2 separate regions of the Homo sapiens genome follow, and region 1 is linked to region 2. Evidence: fine-mapped expression QTL. A gene starts in region 2. The other region holds a variant in brackets. All regions are shown on one strand. Distances are from middle to middle. Region 1 has its middle 22 kb from the start of CD14. Region 2 holds the start of CD14 (CD14 molecule).

Evidence for each region. PIP is the estimated chance that this variant, and not a neighbour inherited with it, causes the effect. A credible set is the group of variants that fine-mapping cannot tell apart.
Region 1: its variant is the best candidate, but not a certain one, in a credible set for the expression of CD14 in whole blood (TOPMed, PIP 0.58).

What each region holds. Positions count from the first base shown.
Region 1 is chr5:140,605,096-140,617,862 of GRCh38, forward strand. It overlaps a transcript of TMCO6 not described here and the pseudogene RPL36P11. Among named protein-coding and RNA genes, the nearest start is that of CD14, 22 kb to the right of the region's middle. The variant T/C (reference allele first, on the strand shown) is at 7,083.
Region 2 is chr5:140,624,015-140,636,781 of GRCh38, forward strand. It overlaps CD14 (CD14 molecule), which reads right to left and starts at 9,161. Exons shown (of 2, transcript NM_000591.4): 1 at 9,055-9,161; 2 at 7,718-8,966. The coding sequence starts at 9,057. The coding sequence ends at 7,842. It also overlaps a transcript of TMCO6 not described here. RefSeq lists enhancers at 7,804-8,305, 8,034-8,093, 8,306-8,805.

The DNA.
Region 1 (12,767 bases), 19 kb before region 2:
AAAACATGTAAATGAAATTATTCTCTTAATTTCCTTTCTGGATTTTAAATTGCTATTGCATAGAAACAACTAATTTTTGTGTGTTGATCTTGTAGTCTGAAACTGCTTAATTTATTATCCCCAATAGTTTTTTTGTGAATTCTATGAGACTTTCTATTTATAGAATCATATCATATGCAAATACAATTTTACTTCTTCCTTTCCAAATTGGATGCCTTTATTTATTTATTTTTCTTGCCTAGTTTCTCTGGCTAAAACTTCTGGTACGGTAGTAAATATAAGTGGTAAAAGTGGCATCTTTAGGCCAGGTGTGGTGGTTCACGCCTGTAATCCTAGTGCTTTGGGAGGCTGAGGCGGGTGCATCACCTGAGGTCAGGAGTTCGAGACCAGCCTGACCAACACAGTGAAACCCCATTTCTACTAAAAATACAAAAATTAGCTGGGCATGGTGGTGGGTGCCTGTAATCCCAGCTACTTGGGAGGCTGAGGCAGGAGAATCGCTTGCATCCAGGAGGCAGAGGTTGCAGTGAGCTGAGATCTCGTCGTTGCACTCCAGCCTGGGTTACAGAGCGAGACTCTGTCTCAAAAAAAAACAAAACACACACACACACACACACACACACACACACACACACACACACACAAAGAAAGAAGATGTTTCCTCCTTTTCTGTTTTTTGAAAGAGTTTAAGTAAGATTGGCATTAAGTCTTTTTAATATTTGGTAGAATTCACCAGTGAAGCTATCTGGTCTTGAACTTTTTTTTGTTGTGAGATTTTTGGTTACTGATTCAATCTCTTGTTATAAATATGTTGTTGAGGCAGTTTTGGCAATAAGTGTGTCCTAGGAATTTGTCCATTTCATCTAGATTACCTAATTTGTTGGCATATCGTGTTCAAAATATTTTCTTTCAATCGTTTTAATTTCTGTAAGGTCAGTAGTAATGTTCCACTTTAATTAACCTTCCTTCTTCCTTCCCTCCCTCCCTCCCCCTTCCCCCCCTTCTTTTCCTTCCCTTTCCTTTCCTTTTCCTTTTCCCCTTCCTTCCTTCCTTCCTCCCTCTCTCTTTCTTTCCTCTTTTTTTTTTTTCCAGGGTCTCATTCTGTCACCCAGGCTGGAGTGCAGTGGTGTGCGGCCTTGAACTCCTGGGCTCAAGCACTCCTCCTGCCTTAGCCTCCCAAGTAGTTAGGACCACAGATGTGTGCCACCAGGCCTGGCTAAATAAACAAAAAAATTGTAGAGATGGGGTCTGTCTATGTTGCCCAGGCTGGTACTTTCATTTCTGATTTTAGTTATTTGTACTTTCTTTTTTTTCTCAGACTAAAGGTTTGTCAATTTTGTTGATCTTTTAAAAGAACCAACTCTTGGTTTTACCGATTTTCTATTTTTTCCATTCCTTATTTTGTTTATCTATGCTCTAATTTTTAATTTTAATTCTGGCAATATATACATAGTCATGCACCACATAATAATGTTTTGGTCAAACTTGAACAGTATAAACAAGGGTGGTCCCATTAGATTATAATGGAGCAGAAAAATCTCTATTGCCCAGCTGGGTGTGGTGGCTCACGCCTGTAATCCTAGCACTTTGGGAGGCCGAGGCAGGCAGATTGCCCAAGCTCAGGAGTTCGAGACCAACCTGGGCAACACGGTGAAACCCTGTCTCTACTAAAATACAAAAGAAATTAACTGGGCATGGTGGCATGCGCCTGTAGTCCCAGCTACTCGGGAGGCTGAAGATGACAGCTCCATGCTTATTAATTGCCCCTGAAGACCTTCCAGTGGGACAAGATGTGGGGGTGGAATACAACGATGTTGATGAGCTTGACTCTGTGTAGGCCCGGGCTAATGTGTGTGGTTTGTGTCTTAGTTTTTAACAAAATAGTTTAAAAAGTAAAAAAAAAAAATAATAATAATAATAATGGAAAAAACCTTATAGACTACTGTTTAAAATAAAATTTGCTATTTTGGCCATTTTTAAGTGTATAATAAATACAGTGGTATTAATTGCATTCACAATATTGTGCAACCATTGCTACTATTTACAATGCTTTTCATCATCCTAAACAGAAACTCTGTACCCATTATGCAATAACTCCCTGTCTCCTCTCCCTCTAGAACCCATTAACCTTTAATCTACTTACCATCTGACTAAGCTTACCTATTATAGATACTCAGCATAAGTGGAATCATACAATATTTGCCTTTTTGTGTCTGGCTTATTTCACTTAGCATAATGTTGTCAAGGTTTATCTATGTTGTAACATGTATCAGACGTCATTACTTTCTGTGGCTAAATAATATTCCGTTGTCTGTGTATACCACATTTTATGTATTCATTTATCCACTAGTGGACACTTGAATCATTTCCATGTTTTAGCTATAGTGTATAGTGTTGATATGAACATTTTGGTACAAAATTTTGTTTGGATATGCCTTTCCAATTCTTTTGGGTATATAATGAGGAGTACAATTATTGGATTATATGGTAAAATTAATTATATATTTAACTTTTTGACAAACTGCTAAATTATTTTCCACAGTGGCTGTACCATATCACATTCCCACCGAAAATTTATGAGGGTTCCTTCTTCTCCACCTTCTTGCCAACACTTGTTTCCAATTTTTTTTATTGTTGTTGATTAGTGCTATACTAGTGAGTGTGAAGTGGTATCTCATTGTGGCTTTTCTATTTTCTTTTTTTTTTTTTTCTGAGACAGGGTCTCTCTCTGTTGCCCAGGCTGGAGTGCAATGGCGCAATCTCGGTTCACTGCAACCTCCGCTTCCCAGGTTGAAGTGATTCTCCTGCCTCAGCCTCCCAAGTAGCTGGGATTACAGGCACTCACCACCAGGCCTGGCTAATTTTTGTATTTTTGGTAAAGACAGGGTTTCTCTATGTTGGCCAGGCTGGTCTCGAAATCCTGACCTGAAATGATCTGCCCGCCTCGGCCTCTCCAAGTGCTGGGATTACATGCGTGAGCCACTGCGCCCAGCCTCTCATTGTGTTTTTGGTTTGCATTACCTTAATGGCCAATGATTTTGAGCATCTTTTCTTATGTTTGTTAGTCATTTATTATAATTTCTTTGTGGCAATGTTCAGTCAAGTTCTTTGCCCAGGTTTTAATTTGCCTGTTTGTTTTTGGTATTTTACTAATGAATAATAATGTTGAGCATCTTTTCATGGACTTTCAGGCATTTGTGTGCCTTTGGAGAAATGGCTATTCAAGCCCTTTTCCCATATTTTTACTTGATTTGTTTGCCTTTTTGTTGCCGAGTTGTAGGAATCCTATATAAACTCTGGGTAGTAAACCATTACCAGGTATATAATTTGCAACATTTTCTCCCATTTTGTAGGTTGTCTTTTCACTTTATTTGGTAATGCCTTTTGATGCACAAAAGCTTTTAATTTTGAATTCCAGTTTATTATTATTTATTTTGTTGCTCAGGCTTTTGGAGTCATATCTAATAATCCACTGCTAAATCAAAGGCCACAAAGATTAGTTTCTGTGTTTTCTTCTAAGAGCTTTATGGTTTTGGCTCTTACATTTAGGTAATCAATTAATGTGGAATTAATTTTTGTATATGATTTGAGGTAAGGGTCCAACTTCATACATCTGCATATGGATATCCAGGTGTCCCTTTGCCATTAGTTGAAACTAGTGTTTCCTTACTGGATGTTCTTGACAACCTTGTCAAAATAAGTTTCCCATAGACATGTGGGTATATTTCTGAACTCTCACTTCTATTCCATTGATCTGTCTGCTTATCCTTATGCTACTACCACACTGTCTTAGTTACTGTTGCTTTGCAATAATGTTTTGAAATCAGGAAGTGTGAGTCCTCCAACTTTGCTCTTCTTTTACAAGGTTGTTTTATCTATTCTGCACCCATTGAACTTCTATATAAACTTTACAATTAGCTTGTCAATTTCTATAAAGAAACCAGCTAGGATTCTTATAAGACTTTCATTGAGATTGAAAAGGAGTAGCCATGGCTCTGTGCCACCCCATGACTGGGGTCTCAGCAAGGGCCCAGGTAATGATGGGGTAAGGAGAAAGCCCAGGCTCAGTCGCCACCACCATGGGCACCTCACCAAGAACACTGAGTTTGTGCAGACCTGGCCTGAAAGGGGTATGGCTTTGCCCCAAACGAGCGGCATGCCATGGAGTTGCTTGAGGTTTCTAAGGACAACTGGGCCCTCAAGTTCATCAAGAAAAGGGTGGGGACACACATCTGTGCCAACAGGAAGCAGGAGGAGCTGAGCAACATCCTGGCCGCCAAGAGGAAAGCAGCTGCCCACAAGGAATGAGCCACCCTCCCCTGTGAGCATAATAAAATCTTTATTTTATTATGGAACTTGTGGTCCTCCTCAGCAGCCTCCCTGGCATTGGAAAGGAGGGGAGGTCCAGTCTGTTCATCTGTTTGGGACCCACCCCCGGGCAGGACCACACCCTGTCCTGGATCCAAGCCCCCTACCTCGGGCATGGGGCAACAGGCATAGAAGCAAGTGCTGGAAATGATTTCTAATCATAATGCAATATCTCATACACACCAAAAAAAAAAGAATTTCATTGAATCTGTAGGTGAATTAGGGGAGAATTGTCATCTTGACAATCATAAGATCTATGAGCATGGGATATTATTCCATTTACTTAGATCTTCTTTAATTCCTTTCAACAACATTTTGTAGTTTTAAGAGTGTAAGTCTGCTCTTCTCTTCTTTTGTTATATTTGTTCCTAAACATTTTATTCTTTTTGCTGCTGTTGCAAGTGGAATTTTTTTCTTTTTTCTTTTTTTGAGACAGAGTCTCACTGTCACCCAGGATGGAATGCAGTGGTACTATCATAGCTCACTGCAACCTCAAGCCCCAGGGCTCAAGTGAGCCTCCCACCTCAGCCTCCCAAGTAACTGGGACTACAGGTGCAAGCCACCATGCCTGGCTAATTTTTTTTTTAAGTTTTGGTAGGAACAGTCTGGGCACAGTGGCTCACGCCCAGAATCCTAGCACTTTGGGAGGCTGAGGTGGGCGGATTGCCTGAGCTCAGGAGTTTGAGACCAGCCTGGGCAACATGGTGAAACCCCATTTCTACTAAAAAAAAAAAAAAAAAAAAAAAAGCCAGGCGTGGCAGCATGTGCCTGTAGTCCCAGCTACTCAGGAGGCTGAGGCAGGAGAATTGCTTGAACCCAGGAGATGGAGGTTGCAGTGAGCTGAGATCATGCCACTCCACTCCAGCCTGGCGACGGCACAAGACTCTGTCTCAAACAAACAAACAGAAAGTTTTAGTAGGAACAATGGTCTCCTTGTGTTGCCTAGGCTGGTCATGAACTTCAGGGCTGAAGCACTTCTCCCGCCTCAGCCAACCAAAGTGCTGGGATTACAGGCATGAGCTACCACACCTGCTCAGAGTTGTTTACTTAATTTAATTTTCAGAATGTGCATTCTAAGTGTATTGACATACAATAGATTTTTGTATATTGATTTTGTATTTTGCAATCTTGCTGAACTTGCTGATTAGTTTTCATGTATTTTAGTGAATCACTAGGAGTTTTTAATATATGTGATTATATAATCTGTGAATTGACATCATTTTACTTCCTGCTTTTCAACCTGGATGCCATTTATTTCTTTTACTAATTTTCATGGCAAGAACCTCTAGTACAATGTTGAATAGAGGTGGTGAGAAAATACATCCTTGTTTTGTTGCTGATCTTAAGGCAAAAGCAGTCTTTTACTATTAAGTATGATATAAACTGATTTTTTTTGGCAGATGTCCTTTACCATGCAAGAAAGTTCCCTTCCTTCCTTTTGTTGAGTGTTTTTTCGTGAGAGGTGTTGAATTTTGTCAAATGCTTCTTCTGCATTTATTTAAATAATCACGTGGTTTTTTATTTCTAATTCTATTTTTCTGATGTATTACATTAATTTTCAGATGTTAAACCTGTAAGAATTAAAGAGGAAAGAAACATGAAAGGCAGCTCAACAAAGACAGGTTTATTTTGGAGCATAAACCTGAGAGGGGCTTCTAACCAAGTTAGGTCAGAGCCACTCTCTCTTCCAGACTAAGAGTTTTTAAGGGTTCAGGGCAGGAGAGCTTATCATAGGCTCAGAATGTTTCTGTGTCTCTTTGTCTTGCTTATCTGGGAGGCACAGTTTTGTGTCTGTTCCCATACATCTTCCTGCAGCTACAGGCATACTTCCCATCACTCCCGCCACCCCCAGTCTGCTTTTAGCTTCCCTATCTCAGTGCACCTAAAGGAAAAGGAATGTGCTTATCAGGGCCCACTGTTTTACTGGGGCCTATTGTATGAGTGTGAAGTTTGGTGGTTACCCAGGAGATTTTCCCCTCTCCCTCTGTGCCTGAGCTGTCTTGTCTGTGTTTTACTGTCTGCGCTTTGTGGCTGCTTGTTGTTAGAATAGAAATGATTTCCTTGAAATGCATGAGGTTAGAAAAGGAGCTGGAACTTAAAGTGGCAGTGTTTGTCCAAGATGACAGTGCTCCTGCTCTGTCAAAACCATCATTGCACTCCTGGCATAAATCCCAATTGGTCATGGTGCATAATTATTTTTATATGTTGCTTGATTTGGTTTGCTAGTGTTTTGTTGAGGATTCTTGTGTCCATACTCATAAGACATATTGGTCTGTAGTTTTCTTTCCTTGTGATGTCTTTGCAGCCATTCTTTCTTAAACTTAACCACAAGATCAGACCTATCATACACAATATCATATGTAAAAAAGAATAAGCAATTTTTAGATAGCCTAAAAGATTCAAGTCAGTGTTCAATGTCTTCCATTACATGTGATTTTAAATGTTTTATAAAGAGCCTCCCATGATCTGGTAAATGAGGGGCTCTGAGCATTAGAAGAAGTGGGGTTTGTGTTGGAGAAAAGAAGACTGGATGGGAGAGAGCAAGTTTTTTTTGAGAGCAAAACTCTTGACTTAGTGTAGAACAACAACAAAAACACACTAATGTCATTTTGATTCCAGATGACAGAGCAGGAGCAAAAGAGGAAGTTTACAGGGAAACTGATTTGAGATCAGAAAAGGAAGTCCTACAACCACAACATTCCACTGTTTCAGCA[T/C]AAAGTCTGTCACATCACACCAACCATCCGACCACAAAGTGCCATGTAGAAGTGGAGCCCTTGCATCTCTCAGTCCATTTCCCGCTCCTTGCCTCACTTCCTTCCCTGTTTAGGGCACATTATTCAGCCTTGCTTTATTAACACAACTTGCCCAATCTTTTTTTTTTTTTTTTTTTTTTTGAGACGGAGTCTCGCTCTTTCACCCAGGCCGGAGTGCAGTGGTGCTATCTCGGCTCACTGCAAGCTCCGCCTCCCGGGTTCACGCCATTCTCCTGCCTCAGCCTCCCGAGTAGCTGGGACTATAGGCGCCCGCCACGGCGCCCGGCTCATTTTTTGTATTGTTAGTAGAGACGGGGTTTCACCGTGTTAGCCAGGATGGTCTCGATCTCGCGACCTCGTGATCCACCCGCCTCGGCCTCCCAAAGTGCTGGGATTACAGGCGTGAGCCACCGCTCCAGGCCAACTTGCCCAATCTTAGGGCCTCTCTGAGGATGCCCTGCACCCCGACCTCCGACCTTGGTTGAATGAATCCTGTCCCCACACTGCTGGACAAAGTTGAAAACAAAAGATCACAATCCTTGAGACTGGAACCATGACACATAGTTTATGGTCTTCAAACTCAGTTCAGCAAATATTTTTACTTGACTTTAGTGAAGTAAAATACTATTCACTGTTTCCTCACTTTCCTTTTGGTCTAGTCCTCAGCCCACTCTTCAATCAATCAAATCAGTGAAGATTTATGGAACATTTGCCATGTACCAGGCACTGCTTCAGAGGCTGGAGATACAAAACTGAACAAGAGCAACACAATCTCTGGTCTCATGGAATTTTCAACCCAAAAAAGATACAAATAAAGAAGACAATTTCTGATAGAGATAAATGCTGTGAAGAAAATCATGCATGATGTTAGGATAGAAATGATGCCAGGAGGGGCCGGGCACGGTGGCTCATGCCTGTAATCCCAGCACTTTGGGAGGCTGAGGCAGGCCAATCACAAGGTCAAGAGCTCGAGAGCATCCTGGCCAACATGGTGAAACCCTGTCTCTACTAAAAATACAAAAATTAGCTGAGTGTGGTGGCATGCACCTGTAGTCCCAGCTACTTGGGAGGCTGAAGCAGGAAAATCGTTTGAACCTGAGAGGCAGAGGTTGCAGTGAGCCGAGATCGTGCCACTGTACTCCAGCCTGGCAACAGAGTGAGACTCTGACTAAAAAAAAAAAAAAAAAAAAAAAAAAAAAATGGTGGCAGGAGTAGCTCCTTTCAGATGGGGTGACATCTGAGTTGAATTCTAAACAGTGAGCCACACCTACCCATCAGCATCTTTGCCCAGAAACTTTGCCTTCCAGCAGAGTGAGACTACAAATTGACTGTTTCGGTTTTTACACTAAAACTAATCCCTCCACTTGTGAACTAGGTACCAGTCCCTTTTATCTACTCAAGAACATTGCTCCAGCAGGACTCCCTTTTCTCCTGTCTCACCAAGTTTTCCGTCTACTGTTTCTATCTTCATACAATCATGCTATTTCTATTATTATTATTATTTTTATTTTTAAATACAGTTGTGCCCAGCTGGAGCATAGTGGTGCAATCATAGTTCATTGCTCATTGTAACGTCAAACTCCTGGCCTTAAGCAATCCTCCTGTCTCAGCCTCCCAAAGCACAGGGATTACAGGCATGAGCCACTGCACCAGGCTCATCTCTCATCGTTTTTTTTTGTTGTTGTTGTTGTTGTTGTTTTGAGAAGGAGTCTCACTCTGTCGCCCAGGCTGGAGTGCAGTGGTGCGGTCTCGGCTCACTGCAACATCCGCCTCCCCGGTTCATGCCATTCTCCTGCCTCAGCCTCCTGAGTAGCTGGGACTACAGGCGCCCGTCACCATGCCCAGCTAATTTTTTTGTATTTTTAGTAGAGACAGGGTTTCACCGTTTTAGCCAGGATGTTCTGGATCTCCTGACCTTGTGATCCGCCTGCCTTGGCCTCCTGAAGTGCTGGGATTACAGGCGTGAGCCACTGAGCCCGGCCATCTCTCATCTTAAAAAACAACAAATGCGGCCAGGCACAGTAGCTCATGCCTGTAATCCCAGCACTTTGGGAGGTTGAGGAGGGCATATAACCTGAGGTCAGGAGTTCAAGACCAGCCTGACCAACATGGAGAAACCCCGTCTCTACTAAAAATACAGAATTAGCTGGGCGTGGTGGCACATGCCTGTAATCCCAGCTACTTGGGAGGCTGAAGCAGGAGAATTGCTTGAACCCGGGAAGCAGAGGTTGCAGTGAGCTGAGATCAAACCATTGTACTCCAGCCTGGGTGGGCAACAACAGCGAAACTCTGTTTTAAACAACAACAACAACAACAAATGTAACAGCATACTCACTGGTAAGAAATTGAAAGCTTTCCCTCTAAGGTCATGAACAAGGGAAGTACTTTCTTTCTTTCATTCCTTTTTTTTTTTCGAGACAGAGTCTCGCTCTGTCACCCAGGCTGGAGAGTGCAGTGGCACGATCTTGGCTCACTGCAAGCTCAGCCTCCCAGGTTCACGCCATTCTCCTGCCTCAGCCTCCCGAGTAGCTGGGACTACAGGCGCCCGCCACCACGCCTGGCTAATTTTTTGTATTTTTAGTAGAGACAGGGTTTCACCGTGTTAGCCAGGATGGTCTCGATTTCCTGCCAGCCTCGGCCTCCCAAAGTGCTGGGATTACAGGCATGAGCCACCTCGCCCAGCGGGAAGTACTTTCAATACTTCTTTTAACATAGCACTGTAAGTCCTAGCCAGAACAAGTAGGCAGGAAAAAGAAATAGAAGGCATCCAAATTGGAAAGGAAGAAGTAAAATTAATCTCCATTCGTAAATGACATGATCTTATATGTAGAAAACCCTAAAAATTCCAAAAAGCCTGTTATAACTAATAAACAAATTTAGTAAAGTTGCAGGATACAAAATCAACACTGAAAAATCACTGTTTCTATATATTAACCATGAACAATCTGAAAAGGATATTAAGAAAACAATTTCATTTACAATAGCATGAAAAAGAATAATAAAATACTTAGGAATAAACTTCACCAAGGAGACAAGACTTGTACAATGAAAACTACAAAATGTTTCTCAGAGAAATTAAAGATACAAATAAACAGAAAGTTAATCCATGTTCATTGGTAGTCTTAATATTTTTATGATATCAACACTCTCTAAAGTGATCTACAGATACAATGCATTTCTTAGCACAATTCAATGGCTTTTTTTTTCAGAAATGGAAAAATTCATTTCAAAATTCATATGGAACCTCAAGGGATCCTGAATGACCAAAACAATCTTGGGAAAAAAAAGAACCAAGTTGGAGATCTCATACATCCTGATTTCAAAACTTATCACAAAGTTGCAGTAATCAAAACAGTGTGGTACTAGCATAAAGACAGACACATAGACCAAGGAATAGAATAGAAATCTCAGAAATAAGCCCTCACATATGTGGTCAAATGATTTTGACAAAGGTGCCAAGACTATTCAATAGATAAAAGAAAGTCTTTTCATACTACGGCACTGGGGAAAATAGATATTCACCTGCAAAAGAATGAAGTTGGATCTTTACTTTATACCATATGTAAAAATTAACTAAAAATTGATCAAATTGCTATAAGAGCAAAAAGTATAAAACTCTTAGAAGAAAACATAAGGCTAGGTGCAGTGGCTCATGTGTGCAATCCCAGCTCTTTGGGAGGCCAAGGCAGATGGATCACGAGGTCAGGATTTCGAGACCAGCCTGGCCAACATGGCGAAACCCTGTCTCTAGTGAAAATACAAAAAATTAACCAGGCGTTATGGCAGGCACCTATAATCCCAGCTACTCAGGAGGCTGAGGCAGGAGAATCACTTGAACCCAGGAGGTGGAGGTTGCAGTGAGCCGAGGCCATGCCACTGCACTCCAGCCTGGGCAACAGAGCGAGACTCCATCTCAAGAAAAAAAAAAGAAGAAGAAAGAAAGCATAGTGAAAAAAAGCTTCATTAGATTTAGCAATAATTTCTTGGATATGGCACCACAACCAACAAAAGTAGAAACAGATAAAGGGACTACATTAAAATCTAAAACTTTTGTGGCCCAGGCATGGTGGCTCATGCCTTTAATTCCAGTACTTTGAGAGGCCAAGGCCAATGCGGGAGGATTGCTTGAGTTCAAGAGTTCAAGACCAGCCTGGGCAACATAGTAAACCATATCTCTACAAAAAAAATTTTAAAAATTAGCTGGGCATGGTGACACCGGCCTATAGCCCTAGCTACCTAGGAGGCTGAGGTGGGAGTAGTGCTTGAGCCCAGGAGTCTGAGGTTGCAGTGAGCTATGATCACGCCACTGCACTCCAACCTGAGTGACAGAGAGACCTTGTCTCTAAATAATAAAAACATTGAAAATTTAAAAAATAAATAAGACTCTGTGCATCAAAGGATGCAATCAGCAGAGTAAAAACGCAATGTATGGAATAGGAGAAAATATTTGCAACTCATATATCTGATAAAAGGTTAATAACTAGAATATATGAAGAACTCCTGCAACTCAATAACAGCAAAACAACATGATTAAAAAATGGGCAAAGGTCCAGTCATGGTGACTGATGCCTGTAATCACAGCACTTTGGGAGGCCAAGGCAAGTAGGTCATTTGAGCTCAGGAGTTTGAGACCAGCCTGGGTAACATGATGAACTCTATCTCTACAAAAAATAAATGTTAGGCAGGTGTGGTGACACGTACCTGTAGTCCCAACTACTCAGGAGGCTGAGACAGGAGGATCACTTGAGCCTGGGAGGTGGATGTTGCTGTGAGCCGAGATCATGCCACTGCACTCCAGTCTAGGCTACGAAGCCAAACCGTCTCAGGCAAAAAAAGAAAAAAAAAAAAGTCAAAGTACTTGAATAAACATTTCTCCAAAGAAGATATATAAATGACCAATAAGCACATGAAAGATACTCAAGGTCTTGGCTGGGTGCAGTGGCTAACACCTGTAGTCCCAGCACTTTGGGAGGCCAAGGTGGGCAGATCACTTTAGGTCAGGAGTTCAAGACCAGCCTGGCCAACATGGTGAAACCCCGTCTCTACTAAAAATACAAAAATTAGGCTGGGTGTGGTGGCTTACACCTGTAATCCCAGCAGTTTGGGAGGCTGAGGTGGGAGGATCACTTGAGGTCAGGAATTCGAGACCAGCCTGGCCAACATGGCAGAACCCCGTCTGTACTAAAAATTAGCCAAGTGTGGTAGTGCACACCTGTAATCCCAGCTATTAGGGAAGCTGAGGCAGAATTGCTTGAACGTAGAGGGCTGAGGTTGCATTTAGCCGAGATCGCACCCTGTACTCCAGCCTGGGCAACAGAGTGAGGCTTTGTCTCAAAAAAACAAAATAAATACAAATACAAATACAAAAATTAGCCGGTGTGGTGGTGCATGCCTGTAGTTTTAGCTACTCGGGAGGCTGAAGCAGGAGAATCGCTTGAACCCAGGATGCGGAGGTTGCAGTGAGTGGAGATGATGCTACTGCACTCTAGCCTGGGCAACAGAGTGAGTCTCTGTCAAAAAAAAAAAAAAAAACTCAAGGTCTCAAATCGTTAAGGAAATGCAAATGGAAACCACAATGAGATACCTCCTCACACTCATTATTATGGCTACTATTTTTTAAAACCCCAGAAAATAGCATGTGTTCAA
Region 2 (12,767 bases):
TCTTAAACAGCTTTATATTGAGTTGTGATTCACAACAAATAAAATTCACCCTTTTAAAGTATTTAATTTAGGCTTGGCGTGGTGACTCATGCCTGTAATCCCAGCACTGTGGGAGGCTGAGGTGGGCAGATCACGAGGTCAGGAGTTTGAGACCAGCCTGACCAAAATGGTGAAACCCCGTCTCTACTAAAAATACAAAAATTAGCCAGGCCTGGTGGTGCCTGCCTGTAATCCCAGCTACTCAGGAGGCTGAAGCAGGAGAATCACTTGAACCTGGGAGGCGGAGGTTGCAGGAGCCGAGATCACACCTTTGCACTCCAGCCTGGGTAACAGAGTGAGACTCCATCTCAAAATAAATGAATAAATAAATAAATAAATAAAGTATTCAATTTAGTGGTGTTTATTATATTACCAGAGTTGTGTAACTATAACCGCGCTTTAATTTTAGAACATTTTTATCACCCCAAAAAGAAATTCTGTATCCCATTAGAGGTCATTCCCCTTGACCACCCCACTTCTAAGCAACCACAAATCTTTGTGTCTCTATCTATCATCATTTCTTTTTTTATTTTTATTTTTGAAACGGAGTCTCACTCTGTGATCTTGGCTCGCTGCACCTCTGCCTCCCAGGTTCAAGTGATTCTTGCACCTCAGCCTCCCGAGTAGCTGGGGCTAATTTTTTTTTGTATTTTCAGTAGAGACAGGGTTTTGCCATATTGGCCAGGCTGGTCTCGAACTCCTGACCTCAAGTGATCCACCCACTTTGGCCTCTCAAAATGCTGGTATTACAGGCATGAGTCACTGCACCCAACCTCACCATCATTTCTTTCTTTCTTTCTTTCTTTTTTTTTTTTTTTTGAGATGGAGTCCTGCTCTGTGCCCAGGCTAGAGTACAGTGGCATGATCTTGGCTCACTGCAACCTCTGCCTCCCAGGTACAAGTGATTCTTCTGCCTCAGCCTCCTGAGTAGCTGGGATTACAGGCGCTTGGCACCGCGCCTGGCTAATTTTCGTATTTTTAGTAGAAACGGGGTTTCACCGTCTTGGCCAGGCTGATCTCAAACTCCTGACCTCATAATACATCCGCCTTGGCCTCCCAAAGTGCCAGGATTACAGGCGTGAGTCACTGCACCCGGCCTCCATCATTTCTTGACTGGGTTATTGGTATAAATTCCCAACGAGTCTTCTAACTTACTCTCTATAGTTTACTTTCAACACAGCAGCTAATGTGATCCTTTAAAAATGGAAACCAGTTTATGTTACCCTTTGTCAGTATCCTCAGGTGGCTCTCTATTTCACCTGAGTGAAAACCAAGCTTCACAGTGGCCTGTGAGCCTTAAACAACAATTGAGGCCACTTGCTATCTCTCTGATATCATTGCCAATGTCTTCCAGGGCCTTTGTACTGGATGTTTCCTCTTCCTGGACTGCTCTTCCAGCAGATAACTACAAGGCTCACTCTCTCACCTCCCTTAAATCTTTGCTCAGAAGTCACCTCATGTGAGGTCTATTCTAACAACTATAAACTTGCAATCCTTCACCCTTATGCCCAGCAATCCTGACTGTTTTGGCTCAGCTCTATTTTCCCCACAGCACTTACCATCATCTAGCACTTTATACTTTCTTCTCCCCACTGCAATATGAACACTTTAAGAGCAGGAACTTTTGTCGCTTTGCTCACTATAAGTGCTTTGTCCTCAGCACTTCCAAAGTGCTTGTCAGGTAGTGGGAGCTCAATAAATAATTGTTAAATGGATGAATAAATTAATGACCAGAACATTCCAGGCAGAGGGAAGAACAAGAGGCAAAGGAAAGAATGGCTAGAATATGTTGGGGGTGATGTTGGTTTACAAGGTGGAGATGACAGTAGAGGAGGCATAGGGAGTTGCTGACCATGTCTCCCTATGTTCTCTGTCTCAAGTTCTAAGTTCTCTTCCTATTTCTCTGTCTCCTTTGAAGACCCTGCTTTCTCCATCCTGAAATGTTGACTGATGATTCCCAGTTTCCTTCTTTAGCACGGTCTCTTCTTTCTCCCCTCCTGGCCTGGGTGAACTTACTCATGGCTATTCATGGCTACGGTTTCCACAGGCATTTCTACACTGATGGCTCCCAAATTCTTATAGCCAGGCCAAACCTGTCCCCTAAGCTCTAGCCCCTATGGCTAACTGCCTACTGGACTGTCCACCTGTGAGTGGCTCTAAGCAACCTATGCCCAGTCTTCTTTTTTTTTTGAGATGGAGTCTTGCTCTATCACCCAGGCTGGAATGCAATGGTGTACTATTAATGTCAAACCCAATTCTTAATAAAACCTTATAGAAAAAGATATCCAATTTTAATCAGTTTGACCATAAGGTAAGAGTCTCATAAACCTTTTATTACCCTTTATATATTTTTTCTTTATTTTTTAAGACAGAATCTCACTTTGTCACCCTGGCTGGAGTGCAGTGGCATGCTTTCAGCTTACTGTAACTTCTGCCTCCTGGGTTCAAGTGATTCTCCTGGCTCAGCCTCCCAAGTGTCTGGGATTACAGGCATTGTATCCCATTAGAGGTCATTCCCCTTGACCACCCCACTTCTAAGCAGCCACAAATCTTTGTGTCTCTATCTATTATCATTTCTTTTTTTATTTTTATTTTTGAAACAGAGTCTCACTCTGTGATCTTGGCTTGCTGCACCTCTGCCACCATGCCACCATGTCATGCTAATTTTTTGTATGTTTAGTAGAGATGGGGTTTTGCCATGTTGCCCAGGCTGGTCTTGAACTCCTGACCTCAGGCAATCCTCCTGCCTTGGCCTCCCAAAGTGCTAGGATTACAGGCATGAGCCAAAGTGCCCAGCCTATATTTTACTGTTAAAGAGCAGATCAGTGCTCTAAGAAAACTCTATTGTGCTTTTATTCCAATGTTCAATTTATGGAAAAATTGAATACCCCTTTAACTTTAGCCAGTATGTCCACAGACAGAATTTATATTTCATAAACCTGCCACAACTTGCTCAAAGCTTCTACTTTTCCCTATCCAACTTAAAATAATACTTTAACCCCCTAAACTAGGCAAAAAAAAAATCCACATTCCTGTGCCTTCTTATAATCTTTTGCCAAAAACACATTCACTTTCCTTACGCACTTTCCATGTAAAACTGTTTCTCTACTAGTCTCAATTGCATATGTTACAATGTTACGTCTCAGCAACTTTTTTTTTTTTTTGGTGAAAAACCTGGTAAGTAAGCAATTTTAATTATGTACCAGGTGTGGAGCCTAGGACACCAGACAGAAGTGCAGATAAGGTCTGATCTTTCCAGCATAGCTAGAGGGCATGGCTAACTCCACATGTCTCTAGGCATTACCTAGAATCTAATGGTTCCAAAGCAGGTAAGTTGAACAATGATCATATCAAGGAAGCAGTTTATGTAGTTTAGTAAACTCAGTGTCTGACCTGCCTAATTTAGACCAAATGTATAAATTTTGAAGACATTTTTATTTTACCAATAATCTTTAAAACTGTCTTTATTTCCCAAGGATTACTAAAGTCATATGAACTAAAAGGCATTAAAGTTTTAATTTTTCTGACAAAATATTTAAGTGCTTTTTCTTTAAGCCAATTAATTAGAGCTCTTTTATATAAACATTACACACACACAACATATGTAAATAGACAGACAGAAGAAGATCCAGTTATTGTAAGCTTTTTCATTTGCCAGTTTTTACATTTTTCTTTTCTTTTTTTTTTTTGAGATTAGCCAGGTGTGGTGGCGGGCGCATGTAGTCCCAGCTACTCAGGAGGCTGAGGCAGGAGAATCACTTGAACCTGGGAGGCAGAGGTTGCAGTGAGTCAAGATTCTGCCACTGCACTCCAGCCTGGGTGACAGAGTGAGGCTCCATCTCAAAAAATAAAAAAAACAAGTAACATATCTGATTGCAATATGCTGTGAAGACAAGTAAAACAGAGAAAGGGAGCAGATATTGTTGTTGAGGATTGATATGTATACAGGTTGACTATCTTTTTTTTTTTTTTGAGACAGAGTTTCACTCTTGTTGCCCACGCTGGAGTGCAGTGGCGCAACCTCGGCTCACCACAACCTCCGCCTCCCAGATTCAAGTGATTCTCCTGCCTCAGCCTCTGGAGTAGCTGGGATTAGAGGCATGCGCCACCACACCCAGCTATATATATATATTTTTTCCCATTTTATGAAACCTATCACAACTTACACAGACCATCTATGACATGCTTGGATATTCTGACTTGTCCTATATTTCCCTCTTTCTTAGGTCTGTTTCTGTTCCCTGAAATGTAAACTTGTGACTAAGATACCTAACCTCCTGAAATTGCGGCCCAGCAGGTCTCAGTCTCATTTTATCCAGCCCCTGTTCAAGATGGAGTTGCTCTGATTTGAATGCCTCTGACAGATGCACTTTACGGCTTTTCTTTTCTTTTCTTTTTTTTTTGAGACAGAGTCTCACTCTGTCACCCAGGCTAGAGTGTAGTGGTGAGATCTCAGCTCACTGCAACCTCTACCTCCCAGGTTCAAGTGATTCTCCTGCCTCAGCCTCCCAAATAGCTGGGATTACAGGAGCACACCACCACATCTGGCTAATTTTTGTATTTGCAGTAGAGACAGGTTTCACCATGTTGGCCAGGCTGGTCTTGAAGTCTGGAGACCTCCAGTGAGCCACCCACCTCGGCCTTCCAAAGTGCTGAGATTACAGGCATGAGCCACCATGCCCAGCCATTTTATGGCTTTTCTTGGCATATCTGAATTGTGGGCATCACTATTCTTGTGCTGGGGGTCCATTATTAAGTAAAATAAGGGTTACTGAACACAGGCACTGCTATATGGTAACTGTTGATCTGACAACCCAGACAGCTCCTAAGTTACTAACGAGCTAGTAGTGCCTACAGTGTAGATACACTGTACAAAGGGATGATTCATATCCTGGATATGTGATGGGTTACAATCCAAACAGTTAAAACTTTAGGTTGGGTGCAGTGGCTTATGCCTGTAATCCCAGCACTTTGGGAGGCAGAGGCAGGTGGATTACCTGAGGTCAGGAATTCACAACTAGCCTGGCCAACATGGTGAAACCCTGTCTCTACTAAAAATACAAAAATTAGCAGGGTGTGGTAGTGCATGCCTGTAATCCCAGCTACTCAGAAGGCTGAGGCAGGAGCATCACTTGAACCCCAGATGCAGAAGTTGCAGTGAGCTGAGATCAAACCACTGCACTCCAGCCTAGGTGACAGAGAGAGACTCTGTCTCAAAAAACAAAACAAAACAAACAAAACCCAAAAAACTAAAAAAAATAATAATAATAAATAAATAAAATGTTGCAGTATTTGCACATAACCTACATACATCTCCCACATGCTTTAAATCATCTCTAGATTACTTATAATTCCTAATACAATGTAAATGCTATGTAAATAGTTGTTATACTATATTGTTTAGGGAATCATGACAAAAATATTGTATAAAGTTATCTTCAGGCTATTATCTAAAGTGTATATGAAACATAAATGAATTTTGTATTCAGACTTGGGTCCCATCCAAATCTATCTCATTATATATACGCAAATATTCCAAAATCTGAAAAAATCCAAAACTTCTGGTCTGGAGCATTTTGGATAAAGGATAGTCAACCTGGCTGGGTGTGGTGGCTCATGCCTGCAATCCCAGCACTTTGGGAGCCCGAGGCAGGCAGATCACCTGAGGTTGGGTGTTCAAGACCAGCCTGACCAACACGGAGAAACCCTGTCTCTACGAAAAATACAAAATTAGCCAGGTGTGGTGGTGCATGCCTATAATCCCAGCTACTTGGGAGGCTGAGGCAGGAGATTTGCTTGAACCTGGGAGGTGGAGGTTGCAGTGAGCTGAGATTGCGCCATTGCACTCCAGCCTGGGCAACAAGAGTGAAACTCTGCCTCAAAAAAAAAAAAAAAAGGATAGTCAACCTGTATAACATATCAATCCTCAACAATATCTGCTCCCTTTTTTTTTTGAGACGGAGTCTCACTCTTTCGCTCAGGCTGGAGTGCAGTGGCGTGATCTTGGCTCACTGCAACCTCTGCCTCCCAGGTTCTAGTGAGCAATTCTCCTGCCTCAGCCTCCTGAGTAGCTGGGATTACAGACACATGCCACCACACCCGGCTAATTTTTGTATTTTTAGTAGAGACAGGGTTTCATCATGTTAGCCAGGGTGGACTCGATCTCTTGACCTCGTGATCCGCCCACCTCAGCCTCCCAAAGTGCTGGGATTATAGGCATGAGCCACCACACCTGGCCCAGATATATTACTCTTTAAAAAAAATTTTTTTTTTTGCAATCAGATATGTTACATCACCACTACTGCCTTAGTCAGCTCAGGCTACCGTAATAAAATACCATAGACTGGTGGCTTAACCAACAGAAATTTATATATATTCTCACAGCTATTTCTCACACATAAAAAACTATCTTTTATGTGTTCCCCCGACCCCCACTGGATTGGAATTCCCTAAGGGCATGGATGTTTCTGATTCATCTTTGTATTTCAGGCTTTAGCACAAGGCCTGAGGTGAAATGTGGTTCTGTAACCATTTGATGAAGTGTGATCAGAGCTATTCAAGGGAAGAAAAAAACTGCCTTGAGATGATTAATTCTCTGATACTAGAAATCTCTCAACTGGCTGGTTGAAGGCCCCTTGGGGACATTCCAGTGAGTGTCCAGCTAATTTAACTGTTTTCTGACATATTTTGAGTCTGGTTCTGGTAATGTCTGTAACTCTCTTATCAATGTTAATTTCCATTCCCTATTCCTATCTGTGTGGCTCTGGACATTGGCCAGAGGCAGGTGCTGGGCCTATATGCCTCCTCCCACCTTTCTCCCATGCTCCCTGTGAGGCAGGCATCTAGCTCTCTGATGGATGTGGCTGCCTCCTCATTGAAATGAAGAAGGGGCTCAGAAGAAACAGCACCTCTTGATGGCTGATGCTGTAGGTCTCTGAGCTAATGTGGACTAGAGGACAAATCCTGTTTATTCTGAAGTTTTGAAGAGTCTGAGATGCTTTCCTATTTGCCAATCAGTCAGCCTGAAAAGGTTATCTGCATATGTGTTCTAACAGAACACAGGATCTCTAATTCAGAGACCGACTGTATCTTGCGTCAGTTCCCTAGGCCCAAATTTCCCATTATGTCGGGGAGTGACACAGTGAAAGCCTCCGGGTGAAGAGAGGTTTTACAAGAGAGGAACCCTAATATTATGAAACTCAGAGCTTGTGCAGGATAGGAGGCTGTCCCTCTTCCTTGAGTGGTAAGGGAGACAGACAGAGAGGGAGAGGGAGGGTGTGTGAGTGTGTGTGTGTGTGAGAGAGAGAAAGAATAAGGAAATAAGCAAATGGCTGTGGGTTTTATTACCTTTGAAAGGGAGCAGCTGGCTCTTGGGAAGTGCATAGGAGAGGAAATATTTTGTATCTTCCAAATATCATGCAAATACCTTTTAATCCAGATGCCAATAATCTGCTCAGAAAGCCCTGACTGCACACTCATTGTTTCTCCCATGCAGCCCTAGCCAGGAGTCCTTTCCTGGCTCCTTCTATCCCCGCAGTTCTTTTCTTGAGGAGGACAGATAGGGTTTCTTAGGGAGTTAGGATGAAGAAAGCCTAAGTATGATGAATTCCCCATCCAGCACTGTGCCCAGCACATAGCAGACATCCAATAAAGGTCTGTTAAATGAATGACACGGACCCGTTGTTTAAGATTTTAATAAAGGTGGGGCAAAGGGTTGAATTGGTCGAAAAGTCCTCAACGTCCTGACGGGACTCCCCTGAAGCCAAGGCAGTTTGAGTCCATTCATTATTCTGTCTTGGATCTTAGGCAAAGCCCCGGGCCCCTTGGAGCAGCACCAGGGTTCCCGACACCCCCACCGACAGGGTCGAACGTGCACAGGCTGGGACCACGCCGGAGTTCATTGAGCCCTCGTGGGGGAGGGCAGTTCCAGGGACCAGGAAGGGATTCCCGTCCAGTGTCAGGTTATCCACCTCGGGCAGCTCGTCAGGCTGCGGCGCCCTGTTCAGTCTGTTGCAGCTGAGATCGAGCACTCTGAGCTTGGCTGGCAGTCCTTTAGGCACCTGTTCCAGCCCAGCGAACGACAGATTGAGGGAGTTCAGGGCGCTGGACCACATGCATCTCGGAGCGCTAGGGTTTACGGTGGCGCGCAGCGAGTTGTGGCTGAGGTCTAGGCTGTGGGGCTGCACACCTGCCGCCGCCAGTGCGGCGCACACGCCTGTGGGCGTCTCCATTCCTGTGTTGCGCAGCGCTAGATTCTGGATGGCCGGGAACTTGTGGGGACAGAGAGCCGCCATCAGTCCGCGTTCGCCCAGTCCAGGATTGTCAGACAGGTCTAGGCTGGTAAGGGCCGGGAAGGCGCGAACCTGTTCGCAGGAAAAGGCAGGCGAGTGTGCTTGGGCAATGCTCAGTACCTTGAGGCCTGGCTTGAGCCACTGCTGCAGCTCGGCGAGCCAAGAACGCCCTGTCGCCCACGACACGTTGCGTAGGCGCAAGCTGGAAAGTGCAAGTCCTGTGGCTTCCAGAGGCAGCGGAGGCATGGTGCCGGTTATCTTTAGGTCCTCGAGCGTCAGTTCCTTGAGGCGGGAGTACGCTAGCACACGCAGGGCGCCTACCAGTAGCTGAGCAGGAACCTGTGCGGCTCCCACTGTGAGCCGCCGCACGCGGAGAGCCTTGACCGTGTCAGCATACTGCCGCGGGTCGGCGTCCGCATCGACGCGCTTTAGAAACGGCTCTAGGTTGAGACCGCCGGCATGGATCTCCACCTCTACTGCAGACACACACTGGAAGGCTTCGGACCAGTCGGGCTGAGGTTCGGAGAAGTTGCAGACGCAGCGGAAATCTTCATCGTCCAGCTCACAAGGTTCTGGCGTGGTCGCAGAGACGTGCACCAGCGGCAGCAGCAGCAGCAACAAGCAGGACGCGCGCTCCTGGGGAGAGAGCAGAGGTCTAGGAGGCCCCATCCAACCCCTGTGGCTCCCGAGTGGCACGCGTTCGACCCCAAGACCCTACACTCACCATGGTCGATAAGTCTTCCGAACCTCTGAGCTCCGGACAGGCTCTGGAAGTGCTTTAGCTTCTTTCCTACACAGCGGCACCCGCCGGCTTCCAGGCTTCACACTTGTGAACTCTTCGGCTGCCTCTGACAGTTTATGTAATCCTGGGATGTCATTCAGTTCCCTCCTCTGTGAACCCTGATCACCTCCCCACCTCTCTTCCTCCGAGCCAGCCCCCTTCCTTTCCTGGAAATATTGCAATGAAGGATGTTTCAGGGAGGGGGACCGTAACAGGAAGGATTCTGCAGGGCATCTAGGGTTCTGTGTCTCCTGGCAGTGTCCTGATGACTCAGGCGCCCCAGGCGGTGAATGCCCTGTTGACTCGGGAGCCTAAGCCTTCTCTGGTGGGTGTGGGAAAAGGATGATCCTCAGTGCCTTAGGCCAGTACCATACTCTGCACTATCCAACCCCCCAATCCCCCTACCTTATATCCCAGAGAATCTACTTGATTCATTTCTTTGACTTCTTCCTTGTCTTGGTTTATGTTGATCTCCTGCCACCAAATCCAAGTCCCTGAATATCCTCAGATATTTAACTGCATGTTTTGTGGAAGAGATTGTGAACCTCATCTGTTGGCACCAAGGGGGGTAGAATTAGGTTCAAGAAAAGGAAGTTGGTCTAAAGAAAAATTCCCCCTTCCTTTTTTTTTCCTTGCTCCTTTGATTAAGTAATAACTTTCTTTCTTTTTTTTTTTTTTTTTTGAGATAGAGTCTTGCTCTGTTGCTCAGGCTGGAGTAGAGTGCCATGATCTCGGCTCACTGCAACCTCCGCCTCCTGGGTTCAAGCAATTCTCTGCCTCAGCCTCCCGAGTAGCTGGGATTACAAGTGCCCACCACCACACCCAGCTAATTTTTGTATTTTTTAGTAGAGACAGGTTTTCATCATCTTGGCCAGGCTGGTCTTGAACTCCTGACCTTGTGATCCACCCGCCTCGGCCTCCCAAAGTGCTGGGATTACAGGCGTGAGCCACTGTGCCTGGCAGTACTAACTTTCTTAAAAGTGGATGTATTTAACAGAGACACATTGGCCAAGTCTCTGGGTCACTTACACTATCCATTTTCTGTCCTGAAATTGTGAAGCAAGGTATTTTGAATCAGTTTTCCCACTTGCACGTTGCTCTCTCCTGCCCTCCCCTCAGTACAATCTCTGTGCCCTAGGAAGGAAGGGATGGGACTATGTTGAATGAGGATTAATTAGTAACTCACCAGTTTCGCAAAAAACAGACAAAAACAGAAAACAAAACAAAATGAAAAAAACAGCAAACAAAACAAAACAAAAAAACAACAAATGTCCCAGAGAATAAGGAGCTACGCATTTACAACAGCCCTCACAGGTCCACATCCCTAGACCTCTGGGGAAAGAACTATATGAAAGTCTTTTTTTTTTTTTTTTTTTTTGAGACTGAGTTTGGCTCTGTTGCCCAGGCTGGAGTGCAGTGGCGTGATCTTGGCTCACTGCAACCTCCGCCTCCCAAGTTCAAGCAATTCTCTTGCCTCAGATTCCTGAGTAGCTGGGATTACAGGAGCCCACCACCATGCCCGGCTAATTTTTGTAGTTTTAGTAGAGACAGAGTTTCACTATGTTGACCAGGCACTCCTGACCTCAGGTGATCCGCCCGCCTTGGCCTCTCAAAGTGCTGGGATTACAGGCGAGAGCCACCACACCCGGCCTGAAAGTCTTTTTTACTTTTATTTATTTATTTGAGACGGAGTTTTGTTCTTGTTGCCCAGGCTGGGCGCGATCTCAGCTCACTGCAATCTCCGCCTCCCAGGTTCCAGCAATTCTCCTGCCTCAGCTTCCCGAGCGGCTGGGATTACAGGCATGTGCCACTACACCCGGCTAATTTTGTATTTTTAGTAGAGATGGGGTTTCTCCATGTTGGTCAGGCTGGTCTCGAACTCCCGACCTCAGGTGATTCACCTGCCTCGGCCTCCCAAAGTGCTGGGATTACAGGCATGAGCCACCGTGCCCGGCAGAAAGTCTTTTTTAAATTCCCACTTCCTCTTTAATTGAGAAAGAAGTAGCTGCAGATTTGTCCCCAATCCAAACAAGAAGGCTCATCACTGCCCCCTGCGGGTCCTGTTGGGCATACCCCAATGCACTGGGCCATGCCCTGGTGCCATGCCAGGCCTCTGTGATATCCCTGAGGACCAAGATATGATTATATCTGACTCAAAGTCAGATAGCCAGTCTTGGAATCCCAGCTTTACGACTGAGGTTATGAGACTTGGGCCTCCCTTCTGTAAAATGGAGATGATAGTATTACCTGTTTGTGAGTAAAGTCTTTGGCACAGAAACACATCTTTTTAGTGTGGTCTTGATGACTAGTCTTCTTTCTCAGAGTCTCTGCTTTCAGAGAACTCAGGCCACTGAAGTCTGACACCTCATCATCTTAGGGGAGGCACTCTGGGTGGGGAGTTCCAAGTTAAGAGGGGCAGTGATGGTTCTGCAAAGATCTCCAACTCACAGCTTGATTCAACAAATGTCTATCATTTGTCTACCGAGTACTAGGGTTGGTAGAAAGCCCTGGGACACAGACATGACAAAGACAAGTCCCTGAAGTGCTCCAGGAGGTGGGTAGAGCAAACATGAACCCAGAACTTCCGTCCATAGTGCAGAGGGCTCTTAAAAGAAGAGAAACCAAAGGCTTGTGTTGTTGGGGGAGAGGGGTGGAGGGGAGGAACATGGTCTGGAGAAAGGAACAGCCAGCCCTGTACAAGACAGGACATGGGGCTGGTTCTTACAGGGTTAACAGTGTTGCTAGACAGGTAGATACAGAAAGGCAATTTGGGCAGCTGTAGCTGTCTGAGCAGACACTGGGCAGAATATAGCTTTTGGCTGGGAACTTTTTTCATCTTCCCCACCTGGAGCACATGTGGGTTTTGTTGTTGTTGTTATTGTTGTTGTTTTAGATGGAGTTTCACTCTTGTTGCCCAGGCTGGAGTGCAATGATGCAATCTTGGCTCATCGCAACCTCCACCTCCTGGGTTCAAGCGAGTCTCCTGCCTCAGTCTCCTGAGTAGCTGGGATTACAAGCACGTGCCACCACACCTGGTTAATTTTGCATTTTTAGTAGAGACGGGGTTTCACCATGTTGGTCATGCTGGTCTCGAACTCCTGACCTCAGGTGATCCACCTGCCTCCATCTCCCAAAGTGCTGGGATTATAGGCATGAGCCACCTTGCTGGGCCAAGTGTGGGTCTTAGAAGCTAGCCTGGGTTAGGTGCAGTGGCTCATGCCAGTAATTCTAGCACTTTGGGAGGCCAAGCTGAAAGGATCATTTAAGGCTGAGTTCCAGGCTGTGATAAGCCATGATTGCACTACTGCACTGCAGCGTGGGCAACCGAGCAAGACCCTGGCTCAAAAAAAAAAATAAATAAATAAAATAAAAATAAAAAAGTTTTTCTTGGGGAAATAAGAAAATAAATTTTTTTTAATTAAAAAATTAAAAAAAGAAGCCAGACAGTTGCATGAGGAAGGGCTCAAGATCCAGGCCCTATCCCTGGCCAGAGCATGGTGCACAGCAGGTACTCAGTAAATGGCTCTCCAGGGGCTGGATGGATACTGGGAGAGAAGATATGGAGGATGGAATGATGGCCTGTAGATATTTTAACATGCTGTTTTGTGGAAGAGATTGCAGACTTCATTGATTAACTCCAAGGGGTAGAATTAAGT